Homo sapiens: one gene and its partners. The protein of the gene in region 4 interacts with the protein of the main gene of each other region in a pairwise test. Each region holds a gene or a part of one and is shown on either strand. Other genes may lie near its edges.

What was found. The genes of interacting proteins can lie anywhere in the genome.
Region 1: the proteins of FAM131C (region 4) and MAD1L1 interact in a two-hybrid assay, tested with the Homo sapiens proteins (one large-scale study listed by BioGRID and IntAct).
Region 2: the proteins of FAM131C (region 4) and HPCAL4 interact in binary tests that used the Homo sapiens proteins (3 or more experiments, as listed by UniProt).
Region 3: the proteins of FAM131C (region 4) and EWSR1 interact in a two-hybrid assay, tested with the Homo sapiens proteins (one large-scale study listed by BioGRID and IntAct).

What each region holds. Positions count from the first base shown.
Region 1 is NC_000007.14:1,816,582-1,820,494, forward strand, and holds part of MAD1L1 (mitotic spindle assembly checkpoint protein MAD1), read right to left. Parts: intron 1-3,913. UniProt on the Homo sapiens protein: Component of the spindle-assembly checkpoint that prevents the onset of anaphase until all chromosomes are properly aligned at the metaphase plate.
Region 2 is NC_000001.11:39,684,570-39,688,482, reverse strand, and holds part of HPCAL4 (hippocalcin-like protein 4), read left to right. Parts: intron 1-3,871; 5' UTR 3,872-3,879; coding exon 3,880-3,913. UniProt on the Homo sapiens protein: May be involved in the calcium-dependent regulation of rhodopsin phosphorylation.
Region 3 is NC_000022.11:29,278,219-29,282,131, forward strand, and holds part of EWSR1 (RNA-binding protein EWS), read left to right. Parts: intron 1-3,913. UniProt on the Homo sapiens protein: Binds to ssRNA containing the consensus sequence 5'-AGGUAA-3'. Might normally function as a transcriptional repressor. EWS-fusion-proteins (EFPS) may play a role in the tumorigenic process.
Region 4 is NC_000001.11:16,063,456-16,067,368, forward strand, and holds part of FAM131C (protein FAM131C), read right to left. Parts: intron 182-3,913; coding exon 66-181; intron 1-65.

The DNA.
Region 1 (3,913 bases), on a different chromosome or scaffold from region 4:
ACCCCACGCCCTGGGCAAGTCCTGCAACGCCTTCCACACTGCCTGGGCCCCATGACCTAGTTTCCCCACTTGTGCAGGGGGGCGCTGGGGGCCCAGGGGGAGTCTGGCTCTGTGGATTCTGCAGCCCAGAGGGCGGCCTCCTGTAACTGGAGAACGGGCAAGGAGGAGCTTCCAGACAGCGCTGCAGGCCCCAGGGGACACAGGGCAGGAGTCACACAGCAGGTCTGAGCAAGCTGCTGTGCCACGGTCCTGGGCTGTGTGGGGAGTGGACAGAGGCCCTTCTGAGCTGCCCCCGAGAGCCAGCCCCACCCCGGTCAGCACCCACACAGCCCCAGGTCAGGCAGGACACAAACCCGGCCCACCACAAAGCTCCCTCTGAAACCACGTCCCTGAAAAGTCCTGTACCCAGAATATGCCCAGAACTCCCACAACTCCACCATGAAGAGGAAAGAGCCAATTAAACAAGGGGCCCTTGAACATTTCTCCAGAGAAGAGCCACACACGGCCAATGAGCTCATGCCAGGACGCTGGGCACCGGGGAAACGTGAACCGCAACTGAGCGAGACACGGAGCCGCCTCGCGCCGACGGCCACTGAGAGCAACCACCATGAGCTGCTGGGTCGAGGGGAATCAGACCCTCCGCGTCGCTGGCGGGAGCGTGTGTGGTGCGGCCACTGCAAACAGCCGGCAGCTCCTCAAAGAGCTGGACGCAGAGTCCATGGGCCCAGCACCCGCCCGGGCGCGCAGCCAGGGGGTCTGAGCGCAGTCCACGCACAGACCTCGGCACGGGTGTCCACGGCAACACGATCCCATCACCAACAGATGGAACGCGGAACCAGCCCTCAACCGCCGGAGGGAGACACAAAACCGGGTTTACCCGTCAACACCGCTTCGTACAGCCGAACTCTGATACACGCTGCCACGCGGGCAAACCCCGAAAACACGCCCAGCCAGTCACAGAGACCTGTCGACACAACTCCGTGCCCAGGGGATGTCCTGGAGGGGCACGTCAGGGCTCAGGGCCAGTGGAAATGTGCCACGGTTAGACTGGTCGCGGCTGCGCACTGAATGTGCCGGGAGGAACGGAACGGTAGACTAATGGAGCGCTAGACGTGAGGGTGAGCTGCATGTGTGTGCATCGGAGCTCAGGAAACCGTTTTGGAAAGCGCTCCCTCCGCCCGGCAGCCCTCTGGGAACCCTCCCCAGGAGCCACAGGGCGGCCTGGCTCCATCCAGCTTGGTCCTGGCAGCTCCCCTGTCCACCGGAGCATGCCTGGGCTGGGCCCCGCCCTGATGGTGTCGCCCCTCCCCTCACCACCTTTGGAGCACGTGCTGCCCCAGAGGCCCTGCGACCTGACCTGTTCCTGCACCTCCTGTTTCTCAGGAGCCGTCCCCGTGCCCTCCCCCTGCCCTCCCCCTGTTTCTGCTGCCTTAGTACATTTGGCCTTGTCATAGTTCAACACAAACCATTTTTAAACAAAAACAAGAGAAACCACTCTGACCTTTCGCTGAGAAAATCCTTTCACTTCTGCCTTCTGCTCTTGATTCTGAATTTCTCCCCCTAAATGTCAGAGGGGCTGATTCTCCTGCAGCTGCCGGGCAGGGGTGGGGAGGCAGTGTGGGAAGAAGTCTCCTCAGCCGGCCCTTCGCCCTCCTCCCAACCCAGGGCTGGCAACCTGGCTGGGCCTGACGCACTGTGGTGCAGACTCTGGCCAGGCTGGACCAGAGAATAGCTGTTTTCCAGGCACCCGCCTTCCCCGGCCCTCAGAGGCTGGCAGGCTTTGGGAGCCTGGCCGTTCATTTCTAAAAATATTTTTTTTTAGAGACGAGTCTCACTCTGTCACCCAGGCTGGAGTGCAGTGGCATGATAACGGGTCACTCAGCCTCGAGCTCCCGGACTCAAGTGATCCACCTCAGCCTCCTGAGCAGTTGGAATGACAGGCATGTGCCAGCACACCTGGCTAATTTTTAAATTTTTTTGAGAGATAGATAGACTTTAGCTATTTTGCCCAGGCTGGTCTCAAACTCCTGGCCTGGCTGGTCTCAAACTCCTGGCCTGACGTGATCCTCCTGCCTCAGCTGCCCACGACGTGAGGATTACAGGCGTGAGCTCTGATCATTCTTTATTTGAAACAGGTGCACCCCGCCAGCGTCAGCAAGACAGCTGCTCCCAATGGTAGGCCGGGCAACCCACTCACGGCTCCTACAGCACCTCCTCTCTGCCGGCCTCAGGCGGCTCTGGAAGAATGATGCCCTAATATACCGCGCTGCCCTCCAGGTGGGGGTGGGGGTGGACGGAGACAGGCAGGAGTAACCAGTGCTACTCTCCCAGCTCAAACCCCACACGAAGGCAGACCCAGCGTTTGCAAAACACCAGCCCCCGGTGAACAAGTCGACCTGCTGTGCAGCCCACCTCTGACTCCGTTTCCCCCAGCGTACCCAGCCACATTGGGAGGCTCCACCTCGGTCTAACGCTCCGGCATTAGCAGGACCTGCTGAATGAGTGGCGCCGGGCCCATCCATCTCTGCCATCGCTGCTCAGCCCTCTGCCATGTTCAAATATCACACAGTCCCCAGGTACCTCGTAAATCACTGTAATTACGGGCTGCTCACTTAAAATTAAACTGCAATTTTTTAAAAAGCAAATTGCCAGTAAGACACGTTGGCTGTGGCTGGAAATACTTCTGAGGCTGCCTGCGCGCAGGCTCTGGCTTCCTCTCCCTCTGCCTGGCCGGCCCGAGCTGCCACCTGTCTAGTCTGCGCACATAGCGGCCCTGTGGCTGGCGGGCGCCCTGGGGGAGACTGAGACACTCACTCTTAATGAAGACACTCGCGGCGTCCATTGTGGCCACTGCACTCTAGTCCAGACCCTCGCTGGCCTGGCCTGGGGCTCACCTGCCCCTCTGGAAGCAGAGAGGGCCTGCCCTGGAGGGCCGGGGACCTCTGCAGCATGTCCGTGGAACACGTGGGCCAGGGATTGTGTGCCCGGCCCCCATTCCAGCTCTGCCACGTGAGCAGTGCTCACTCGGTGCCTAGGGCTGACTAGTCTTACTAAGCGCTGGTCCCACCATCCCCTGAGCCGAGCCCCATGGTGTCCCAGCGGGCACGGACAAGAGGCACGGAGTGAGGGAGGGGTGGGGGCTGACAAAGGGCTTGGAGAGCAGAGACAGCGCACACCACCAACTCTCTCCACACACCACTTTCTCCACACACCACCAACCGCAGGATGTGGTGGGGCTCGGAGGCCAAGGGGGAAGTGTGAGGGATTCCTGTCAAGAACAAGACCCCCTGCTGCTGAGGGTCCAAGAGAAACTCCATGAACTGGGAAACTCGAGGGGAGGAAGCTAGAGATGGAATGAAGGAAGCCCTGAATCCTGGCTCAAACAAGGAAAGCTGAAATAATGCAGTAAAATGAGAAGACACGCAGGAAATGGAAACGATGCTACTTCGAGATACTGGGAAGTTATGTGAATGCTGTTCATCTGTGGGGTGGCGTGAAGAGGTGGAGGCCACACCAGTGGACATCAAAACCAGAAACCAGTCAGAGAAAGACAACAGGAAAACTGTAAGTGCCTGGAAATTAAACAGCACACTTCTAAGTAATCCACGAGTCAAATGGGATGCCTCGAAGGAAATAAAAAAGAGAACAGAATGGAAACAAGAATACAGCATAATGAAATTTGCCAGACGCACCCAAGGCAGTGCTTAGAGGGAAACGGACAGCACTCAATGCCTGTATCAGGAAAGGAGAAAGATCTCAAATCGCTTCTCTAAATTCCTACTTCAAGAAACGAAGGGAAAAACAAGCCCGAAGCAGGAGGAGGAAATAATACAAGTAGGAATGAACAGGAAAACAAAAGTTATTAAAACCAAAAACTGCTTCTTTAAAAAATAGCAATAAGGCCGGCCAGGAG
Region 2 (3,913 bases), about 24 Mb from region 4:
CCCTGGCTATGGACATAATGAAGGTACCAAGAGCATTTCAAAATAAGAGACAACAGGACTTGATGGCAAGTTAGACCTAGGGCAAAGGGAAGGGAAAAAATGAAGGTAACTAAGATTGTGTTCCCCACACCCCGGGGATGAGGGAGAGAAGGAAGGGGCAACAGAGACAGTCTGACCATCTCTGGTTGGGAGCGAGTCTGGCTGTAGACTTGCTGTCTCAGAGGTGCTGGTGGACACCCCTAGGGTGGCTATCTCCTGGGTGTCAGAGATTGTGGCCCCAGATGGTTCCACTGCGGCCAAAAGGGAGATCAGAGCTCTGATTTTCCCAGAGGGCAGATGTGGGTGGAGAAGGTCTGTGCTGAACAAGAGTAGCCATGATTTGGAGACGGTGGCCCAGGCAGGTAGCACGGATTCAGCCTGAGTGCTCATCTGGGCCCTCCCACTGACCTGCTGTGTAACCCTGAGCCAGTTTTCTCCTATCTCTCAATTTCCATTTTCACTGAAATAAGGGGATGATCTTAAAGGGCACGGCCAGTTTTGACCTTCTTTTCTTAATTTTTTATTTACTTATTTTTTTTTTGAGACAGGGTCTTGCTCTGTTGCCCAGGCTCGAGTGCAGTGGCTCAATCACGGCTCACTGCAGCCTCAACCTCCTGGGCTCAAGTGATCCTCCCACCTCAGCTTCTGAGCAGCTGGGACTACAGGCACATGCTACCATGTCTGGCTAATTTTTAAATTTTATGTAGAAACAGGGTTTCCTTATCTTGCCCAGGCTCAGCTTTGACCTTCTGATGATCTAGAGGGAATGAGGAGAAATAAAGGAGGAGGCATAGTCTGGGTCTGAGACCCAATAAAAGCAGGGAACAGGAAGGACCCTAGGAGACAGAGAATTGTGGAGAAGGCAGCACAGAGCAGGGAGGAGAAAAGGGGTATAAGGTGAGAGCCACACAGACACTGTGACACACACAGAGAGACGTGTGCACTCTGACAGATTTGCAGCCTCAGACATTGACATGCTCCCACACACAGACCCAGCCCCTCATGCTGACTCTCAGGCACATCCTACGGAAGACAGCTGGAGAGGCTGTGCCTCCCCCCATCAGACATCTCTGCCTGACTTCTCCAGCTTCCTTGACTATACCCTGAGCCTTGAGAGTCCTTTGGATTTGGGAGAGGGGTGAGGCCTGCCTCCTTTTGCCTATGGGTGTTCCAGAGGCATCCTTGCTCTGGCCTCAGTGTAGCCATTTTCCGCCCAGCCTCAGGTTCCTGAAGATGGCATGCTCCCCCTCCCTGGCTTTTCCTGAGGGCATACAATTCCTCATCCTCTGGGAGTGGGGAAGGATGTTGCTACCTGCACTGCTCCTTGGTCTTCCTTATGGCCCAGTGGAGGAATCTGAGGCCCAGAGAGGATCTGTAACTAGCCTGAGGTCAGCCCAGCAAAGGGGAGTGGGAAGGAATGGACCAACCTCAGATTTGCTATTTAGTGTTTTCCCAGTTGTAAGAATTAGAAGCCCACTGGCAGACATCGGGCTATGGGAGTGGAATTCCTTCTGCCAGCCCAAGGGCTTCCTTTTCCAGAGTATCTTGAGGACAGGCTACCTGGGGTGGGAGCCTGACCCTCTTCCAAAGAGACTCTAGGCAGGTCAGAGGCACCTCCCAAGCCATGTCCTGGGAAACCCAGACTCTGCAGGGACATTCCTCCCAGGGAGGTCAGAGAGGAGGGTCCACTCTGCCTTCAAGGTCTGGCCACACTTCCTGAGGAGGGCCTGTACCTCTTCAAACACTTCCCCTGGCACAGCCCACTTACGGGCTCACATTCCCACTGGGGAATAACTCTTGATCCTTCCCAAACCTGCTTCTCAGCAACAACACTTCTATCCACTGAGGCTCAAATCTGAGCCTCTGCCTCAACTCCTCTGTTCCTCTTACTCCCACATCCAATCAACTGCAAAGTCCTGCCAGTGCCCTTCTTAACGTCTCAGCCCATCCACGTCTCTCCACGACCCTTACTCTGGCAGCATTGTCTCTCACCTGAACCGTGTAGCAGGCCCCTCCCTGCTCTACCTACCTGCCCCCACCAAAGGTCATCTTGCATGCTGTGGCCAAAGGAAAAATTCTTTTTTTTCTTTTTTGAGACAGGGCCTTTCTTTATCGCCCAGGCTGTAGTACAGTGGTGCCATCTCAGCTCACTGCAACCCCTGCCTCCCAGGCTCAAGTGATCCTCCCATCTTAGCCTCCCAAGTATCTGGGACTACAGGCATGCACCACCACACTCAGTGAATTTTTTTTTTTTTTTTTTTTTGAGACGGAGTCTCACTCTGTCGCCCAGGCTGGAGTGCAGTGGAGCGATCTCGGCTCACCGCAAGCTCCGCCTCTGGGGTTGATGCCATTCTCCTGCCTCAGCCTCCCAAGTAGCTGGGACTACTGGCGCCCGCCACCATGCCTGGCTAATTTTTTGTATTTTTAGTAGAGATGGGGTTTCACTGTGTTAGCCAGGATGGTCTTGATCTCCTGACCTCGTGATCCACCTGCCTCAGCCTCTCAAAGTGCTGGGATTACAGGCGTGAGCCACTGCGCCCGGCCAATATATTTTTTTTTTTTTTGAGGTGGAGTCTCACTGTGTCACCCAGGTTGGAGTGCAGTGGCGCGATCTCAGCTCACTGCATGCTCTCCCTCCTGGGTTGACGCCATTCTCCTGCCTCAGCCTCCCGAGTAGCTGGGACTACAGGCGCCTGCCACGACGCCCAGCTAATTTTTTTGTATTTGTAGTAGAGACAGGGTTTCACCGTGTTAGCCAGGATGGTCTTGATCACCTGACTTCGTGATCCACCCACCTTGGCCTCCCAAAGTGCTGGGATTACAGGTGTGAGCCACCGTGCCCGGCCGCGCCCAGCCAAATTTTTAAATTTTTTGTAGAGACTAGGTGTCACTGTATTGCCTAGGCTGGTCTCAAACTCCTGGCCTCAAGCTGTCCTCTCATCTCAGCCTCCCAAGGTACTGGGATTATAGGCATGAAATACGGTGCCCAGCCTGGAAAAATTTTAAAACACATACCTTTTCTTGGGTCCCCAGTGACTCGTTCAAGACTGGGTATATCATAAGCATTCTGTAAATATTGTGGAATGAATGCAATCTTCCCAGCCCTTGTTTTAAAAAATCCCAGGAGCGTCTGTTCCCTCCAATTTCTTGGCATGGATTGGAGGCCCTTTGTAACCAACCATCTGCCTCTTTGACCCAGTTACAAGTTATTGAAGGTTGGCTCATGTCTGCTTCATCTCCATCACTGGCACAGGGCCTAGCACACAGTCAGTCTCAATAAATGCTCAGGGAATGAATGGATTAATGAAAAGCCAAATGTCAGTAGAGGATTTCTATTTGTATAGAGGAAAGAGGGAGAGAAGCTCCCTGCTGGGGTGGCCCAAGAAAGCCTTGAGGAAGAAATTGGGAGACAGTGCCAAGGGGACACACAAGGAACCTACCTTGGGTCCCTTCTCAGGACAGAAGCCTGCCAAGGAGGGTGGGGGCTGACTTCAGAAAGCCCTAAATGGCAAGGAGAGGAGTCAAGGCCTTAGTCTGTGGGCAGGGGAGCCATGAAAGGTGTGAGCAGGAGGGGAGAGGATGAAGACTGTGGCGTGCTGCACGGTCAGTGAGGAGGAGAGCTGAGACCTGGAAGGCGGGAGACCCCCGGGGCTAGGAGAAGAAACCTACCTGAATGCAGGTGTTGTGAGGGGAGAGGAGGCCCCATTATGGGGGAGTGTCATGAGGGGAAGGAACCTGCAACCCCGCCCTGTGTGTGGCAGGGGAGGGGGCAGCTGTGGCTGAGGCAGGGCCTTTCCCTGGACCCAGTCGGAGGAATCCCTCTGTCCCACAGGCCCCGCCATGGGGAAGACCAACAGCAAGCTGGCCCCCGAGG
Region 3 (3,913 bases), on a different chromosome or scaffold from region 4:
AAGGCCATGGTGTCCTTAATGCGTCAGTCTTATGTTGGAGGGAAAGAAAGCAACTGTGTACACTTAAAATAATCTGTGGTTTAGTTCCTTATTAGTGGTTGCTTTCATATACTCTCAGATGTTCACTGTTAGTAACTGATGTGCTAGAACATACCACAGAAATATTCTGCATTTAACAGTGAAATTGGCTGGGCGCGGTTTCTCATGCCTGTAATTCTAGCTCTTTGGGAGGCCGAGGCGGGCGGATCATATAAGGTCAGGAGTTTGAAACCAGCCTGGCCAACATGGGTGAAACCCCGTCTCTACTAAAAATGCAAAAATACCGGGGGGGCGCAGTGGCTCACGCCTGTAATCCCAGCACTTTGGGAGGCCGAGGCAGGGGGATCACAAGGTCAGGAGATCGAGACCATCCTGGCTAACACGGTGAAACCCCGGCTCTGCTGAAAAATACAAAAAATTAGCCGGGCATGGTGGTGGGTGCCTGTCGTCCCAGCTACTCGGGAGGCTGAGGCAGGAGAATGTCATGAACCCGAGAGGCGGAGCTTGCAGTGAGCTGAGATCGCTCCACTGCACTCCAGCCTGGGAGACATAGCAAGACTCGGTCTCAAAAAAAAAAAAATAGAAAAATTAGCTGGGCGTGGTGGCGCACACCTGTAATCCCAGCTACTGGGGAGGCTGAGGCAGGAGAATTACTTGAACCTGGGAGATGGAGGTTACAGTGAGCTAAGATGGCACCATTGTACTCTAGCCTGGGCGACAGAGGAAGACTTCACCTCAAAAAAAAAAAAAAGTGAAATGGTGCTATCGAAGGGTCAAAATGAGGAATGGCACTGAATAGGTTCTCTGGTTTCAGAATGACCTTTTAGGGTAGGAGAAGGCTATTGTTTTTAAACCCAGAAGAAGAGAGAGAGAGAGTGTGTGTGTGTGTGTTTTCACTCAAAACAGCATAACTGATAGAATTGTACTTTTGAATTGTACTTTTGATGCTTTTATCTTTGATTTCATTGACCCTGTAAATGGGTAACCGCTTTCTCTTTGGCAAAAACATGGTAGTTCACACAGGCAGGAGGGGAAGGGAGCATCATGTGAGTCAAGAAATGGTCGTATGACCTAATTGTCTGGAAAGGACATAACCATATTCAAGAAATCAAACATTACTGTCTCGGCTTAAGCAATTGACATGACTTCCCTACATTGTATAGAGGCTTAATCTAAATATTATAGGCAAATAAAAATTCTTAACTGGGTACCCTGCTATAGGATGAGCAGAGCTCATACCCCATGACTGGTTAGCAGGTAAACAGTATAATTATTACTTAACAAAAGATTTTAGATCTTTGCTTTAGGCAGTCACTTAACTGGCTTGTGTATACAGTCTTGAAAGGACATTGAATTCTGGTTTGAAAGAAGACATTTTAGGAAATCAACTTCTAACCTAGATATATCTGCTCTAGAGGTAAGAAATTAGCTCTGACAAACACTCGTGAAATTACTTTTAAAATGCACAGTGAGTAATCGGAGCCGCTTGGCAATTTACCCTTGGTAGACCACCTTTGCAGTAGCTAAGTTAAACTTAGTGGCTTATTCCTGAAAGGCCTCATTTCCGAGTGTCATCAGATGTATGAAGTCCCATTTGATACTCTGATGCAACAGTATATCCAAGCCATATCTGGAGGGTTTTATATATGAATTGGGTTTTGATAAGTCATCCTTTTTTTTTCTTTTCACTTGTTACCACTTTAAAACAGCTGTCTGTCTCATAATCAGTGGCAACTGCTTTTTCGACTGGAAAAGGGTATGGGACCTATTTCAGCTCAGGAAAAGTTAGTACTTCACACCCTCTCTGGTTTTTCTGGGTTGGTTGGTTGGTTGGTTGGTTTTTGAGATGGAGTGTTGCTCTGTTGTCCAGGCTGGAGTGCAGTGGCGAGTGCACCCACCACCCAGGTTCAAGCAATTCTCCTGGCTTAGCTTCCCGAGTAGCTGGGACTACGGGCATGTACCACCATGCCCGGCTAATTTTTGTATTTTTAGTAGAGGCAAGGTTTCACTATGTTGGCCAGGCTGGTCTCGAACTCGTGACCTCAAGTGATCCGCCTGCCTTGGCCTCCCAAAGTGCTGGGATTACAGGTGTGAGCCACCGCACCCGGCCTGCCTGTTGATTCTTTGGACTTTGCTTAAAATATTAATAGCTCTAACTCAGTCTGCTGCAGCCTTGATGTAAAGTGTTAGGGCCAAGAGGTAATAGAAACCCCTGGAGTTTTCCTTGGAACTGAGATTAATTTTCGTCATTTAACAGGGATACTTACTTCCAGGTTCATCTGAGCAGGGACTTGGGAGGGGTCTCTTTGCCTTACTCTGGTGTTTCCATTACGGAGACTTTGAGCCAAGTTAGATTAGTTTATGGCAGCCCAGTTTAGGAAATGATTTTTTTCTGGTTGGTTGGATGGTTTGGTTGGTTTTTTTTTTTTTTTTAAGATGGAGTTTTGCTCTTGTTGTCCAGGCTAGAGTGCGATGGCACAATCTCGGCTCGCTGGAGCCTCCGCCTCCGGGGTTCAAGTGATTCTCCTGCCTCAGCCTCCTGAGTAGCTGGGATTACAGGTGCCCGCCACTCTGCCCAGCTAATTTTGTGTGTGTGTGTGTGTTGTTTTTTTTTTTTTTTTTTTTTTTTTTTTTTTTTTTTTGACAGAGTCTTGCTCCGTCGCCCAGGCTGGAGTGCAGTGGCGCCATCTCAGCTCACTGCAAGCTCCGCCTCCCAGGTTCATGCCATTCTCCTACCTCAGCCTCCCAAGTAGCTGGGACTACAGGCACCCACCATGATGCCTGGCTAATTTTTTGTATTTTTAGTAGAGACAGGGTTTCACTGTGTTTGCCAGGATAGTCTCGATCTCCTGACCTCGTGATCCTCCTGTCTCAGCCTCCCAAAGTTCTGGGATTATAGGTGTGAACCACCGCTACCAGCCAATTTTTTGTATTTCTAGTAGAGACGGGGTTTCTCCATGTTGGCCAGGCTGGTGTCCAACTCCTGACATCATGCAATCCACCTGCCTTGGCCTCCCAAAGTGCTGGGATTATAGGCATGAGCCACCGCACCTGGCAGTTTGTTTTTTTTGAGATGGAGTCTCTCTGTTGCCCAGGATGGAGTACGCGATCTAACAGCTCACTGCAGCCTTCACCTCCCATGCCCCAGCAGTCCCTCCCACCTCAGTCTTCCAAGTAGCTGAGACCACAGGCATGTACCACCATACCTGGCTAATATTTTTCTATTTCTGTAGAGGTGGGGTCTCCCTATATTACCAGGCTGGTCTGAAACTCCTGGGCTCAAACCATCCTCCTGCCTCAGCCTCCCAAAGTGCTGGGATTTTTTTTGTTTGTTTGTTTTTGAGACGGAGTCTTGCTCTGTCGCCCAGGCTGGAGTGCAGTGGCGCGATCTCGGCTCACTGCCAGCTCCGCCTCCTGGGTTCACGCCATTCTCCTGCCTCAGCTTCCTGAGTAGCTGGGACTACAGGCGCCCACCACCATGCCTGGCTAATTTTTTTTTTTGTATTTTTAGTAGAGACAGGGTTTCACTGTCTTAGCCAGGATGGTCTCAATCTGCTGACCTCGTGATCCGCCCTCCTCGGCCTCCCAAAGTGCTGGGATTATAGGCATGAGCCATTCTCGCCTGGCCTTGACCTGGTCTGTTTTTAATAAATGAGAAACATAAACCCACAAATTCTCTAAATTTATGATGCCATGGACTTACGTAAATGTTACTTCAACCTAAAACTTAACATTATTGTTAGTTTCTGGTCTTCAGCAGTCCCCTTTGAGAAAAAGCATTTATTCCCTAACAGATCACTTCTCCCGGATCACCTAAACTGGTAGCACACAATATCGCAACGCACTTTTATAGCGTTTACTGTGATGAATGGAG
Region 4 (3,913 bases):
TGCGGGGAGGAGACAGGCCGGGAACCGGGGCGCAGGTAGCACAGGGATGAGGAGCAGCCAGTTACCTTGCCAATGACACAGTCTGGAGCCACGGTGGGAGTGCGGCCCGAGGGCAGATCTGGGTTCAAGGGGTCCGCACCCTGGGGCATGGGGCAGTTCTTGTGGGCACTTGTGAACAGGTCTGGAAATAAGAGCAAGAGGAGGAACTCAGCAAAGCCCAGCCCTCTCTTGCTTACAAAGCATGTTCAAGGCCCCCCCGTAAGGTGAGTATGGCCTTGTTTTTATCCAACAACATCGTAGAGAAAGCAGACTCAAGTCCACAGCAGGGAAGGGGTCCAGCCAGATGCCCTCCTGCCTGTGCCCCTCAGCGGGAATTACTGGCCTCATCTTCTTTTTACTCCCTTTTCTCAGTTTCTAGCACCCACACTCCAGCATGATTTTGGCCTCGTGGAGATCTTTAATCCATTTACCCTCATATTTCCAGACTAGATCCTCCCGTCCTCTTTTGCTCCTGGCCCGGCTGACACCCTGGCATGGCCTCTGAGCTCTCTCTCACAGACGCCCTTACCTCTCACCCCGGTTTGGGTCTGACCCTCCTGCCCTGTGCCTGGATCTGAGGAGCTGAATGTTGCTGGAGAAAGTGACCGCTGCATGCGAGATTGTAGCCCCAGCCTCCCGTGGGACGCTGCCCGGATCCTTCTCTGTTTCTGCATTTCCTGCTGTCTTTGTTTCCTGCCAGGTTGACAGCTTCACCCCATCCTTCCTTCTCAGACATGAAACACACCCCCTCCCCTACCCCACACACTGCTGGGGGCTTCTGCCCCTCCCTCACTGGGTCCAGGATCCTTGGAAAGGTGTCACCTGGATCTTTCCACCCAAATCACCAGAGCCTGCCTGCACCTTTGCCCACATCATCGCCTTTCCCTCCTGCAACAAAGGAAGAGCTGTTCCTGCTGCACCCAAGACCTTCTGGCCCATCCACCCAGGGCTGGGTCCTGCCCCTGCCCTCCCCCCAGAGGCTCTGCTCTCCCTCCTGCGGTGTCACTGTGCCCTCTCCACTCTGTCCACTTTGAAGCATTCAGCCGGGATCTCATATGCTGCGATGTGTCTTGGGCTCTGGACCTTCTCCTGCATTCTCACTCCTCTGTCCCCTTTACCACTGGGTGGGGCCGTCAGCATCCTGGCAACCCAAGCATCTCCTGTCTTCTCAGAAGCTTGTGACCACTGTTTCCTTCCAGCGACTTGGCCGTTCCTCTGCTCCCTTCTCGCTGGACGTGCAGAGAGCTGTGTCCCACATCTACTTCCTCGTCCTCCACTTCTCCTCCACCCATTCCAAGCAGGCTTTCATGAGGCAGCCCTTGCCAAGCTGCCAGGAAAATCCGTGGGGCCAACTCCAATGGGGGCTGCTCCAGCCTCTTCTTGGAGCTGGAGCTGTGCAGCCTTCCTGCCCTCTTGAGCCTCGCTCTTATCCTGGCCTCTGGCCTCTCTGGCTGCTGTCCTGGGTCCCCTCTTTGGCTCCTCCCTGGCTCACCCCTGCCCGTTGGCTGGCACACTTCTGTCCTGGCCCTTCTCCACCCTCTCTCCCCAGGAGGTCTCACCTTCCTGTTTCCGCTGCCCGCTGCCCATGTGCACACCTCCAGCCCTGACTCCTCACTTGAGCTCCCAACTGAGTTTCCAGCTCTCCACATGGATGCCCAAGGGGCACCCCAAGCACACCTGGGCAAAAGAGGATTCCCAATTCCAGGTCCACCTTCCCCCCATCCCCCACTGCACCAACTACAACCCTGGGAGTTTCTCAGGGTCCTGCCTTCCCCCACTCTCCCCGGGGCCACGCAGTCAACCGGCAAATCCTGTTAGCCCTCTCTTAGGTCTATTCCAGGTCTCCCGGCTCCCTTCTCCCAGGGCTCCCCTGCTGCAGGCATCCTCCCTCCCTGGAAGACAATGGTCCCTGCGCTCACTCTCTGCCCGCCAGCGGAGGGACTTAATGCTCTAGGCCAGATTGTGTCACTGGGGTTAGGGGACCATGTGGGTGCTGCCCCCAATTCCCCTGGATTCCTTTCTCCTGTTTTTGCCCTGGCGCCCTGCATGGCTTCTAAGAGGCACCACCTGTGGCTCTTTCTACAGGGGCTGCCCTAGGTAAATTTCTGTTGGCCCCACCCAGAGTGGCCCCAAGCCAATGACTACCAGGTGCAGAACCCCAGCTCTTTTGTCTGGGATCCGAAAATTCCCCTTCACTTACCCTCCGGAGTACCCTGCAGGACCAGGCTGAGGCCAGGCCTGAGACCACCCCACTGCCTGGCTGGCCTCCTCCATCCTCCTCTCGCTCCATTCCCTACTGGCTTCCTCTGGAAGGTTCACCTCATATCAGTTGTACCCAAATCCTCATTTCAGGGGCAGCTGGCAGGGGGAAGGTAAGCATTCAGTTGGAGGTGAGATTAAGGTTTTCTTTTCTTTTTTTTTTGGAGACAGAATCTCGCTCTGTCACCCAGGCTGGAGTACAGTGGCGTGATCTCGACTCACTCTAACCTCCGCCTCCCAGATTCAAGCGATTCTCCTGCCTCAGCCTCCTGAGTAGCTGGGATTATGGGCACCTGCTCATTTTTATATTTCCAGTAGAGACAGGGTTTCACCATGTTGGCCAGGCTGGTCTCAAACACCTGACCTCAGGCGATCCGCCTGCCTCGGCCTTCCAAAGTGCTGGGATTACAGGCATGAGCCACCACGCCCAGCCTGAGATTCAAGTTTTCATCCCAACTGGATTAGACTTAGTTTGCAGAAGAGACCGTAGGTTTCTGGGATCCACCCAAAGGTAAGCAGGTGGGCTAGTCAAGGAGGCTGGAGGCAGAGACTGGAGCCAAGGAAAGATCTTATTGACCACCCCACCCATGACCCAGGCAGGCCTAAGGAGGTGAGAGCACCTGGGGCAGCACGGGATCCTGTGGACTGAGCCGTGCGCCTGCACACCATAGCACTCAGCTCATCTTGTTCTTTTTCCTGAGTCCCTGCTGTGTGACCCTGAGCTAGTCCTGCCCCTCTCTGGGCTCCAAGGCCTCCATTTCCACAAAGGCCATGTTGTCCAGGCCCTTCAAAGGCAATGTTCAAACTGGGGGTGCATATTTCAGTGGGTCATGCAGCCGTTTATTAATTAGGTCTTATTTTAATGAAATAGAATGGAATAGAATGGAAAATATCAGAGCCCACTGCAAGTCAGGTTAAGTATTACTTTATGAAGCTTCTGTTTATGCAAACACAAGTCTGTGCAGATGTGTGTGCACAACACACACAGAGTAAAAATTTTCTCTGTGTGTATTCTGGGTCATGATGCAAAATATATTATTCCTATGGGTCCAGTCAAAAAAGTTTGCAAGTTGCCAATCCTGAGGTTCTGGAAATTCTGCATGTCCTGTACAAGCCAGGGCCCGCCAAGGTGCAGACAGGTGGCTCTGGCCATAGGCTGACCCTAGGAACTTGAGAGGTGTTAGGGTATTTCTAGGACCCCTGGCCATCCCCTGAAGCTTTTTTACAACTCTCCAGCCACAGACCAGGGAGCGAGGTTGATGGGGAGGGGAGCCGGGCACAGAGGAGGCTGGTGGTGATGCCAAAGCCTGGCAGAGGCATGACTTGAACAAGGTCATTTGTTGAGACGGTGGTGGGCTTGGAGGACTCCTGGCTCCCACCCCCTCCCCAGCCCGCCTGGCTCCCCACCTCAGTTGGGGTTCAGGTGCCTCCACCAAAGCTGCCTGCTCCCCCTGAGGACTTTGGCCCCATGATGTCACAGGCTGGTTGCCATGGGGACGTCAGGTAATGAACCAGCCCAGGGTGAAATCACAGGCTGTTCTTCGCCCAGCTGGGACTGGTGGTCACGTCACCACTGGCAACTGGAAAAACACAGAGTGTCATGTGGGGTGGGGGC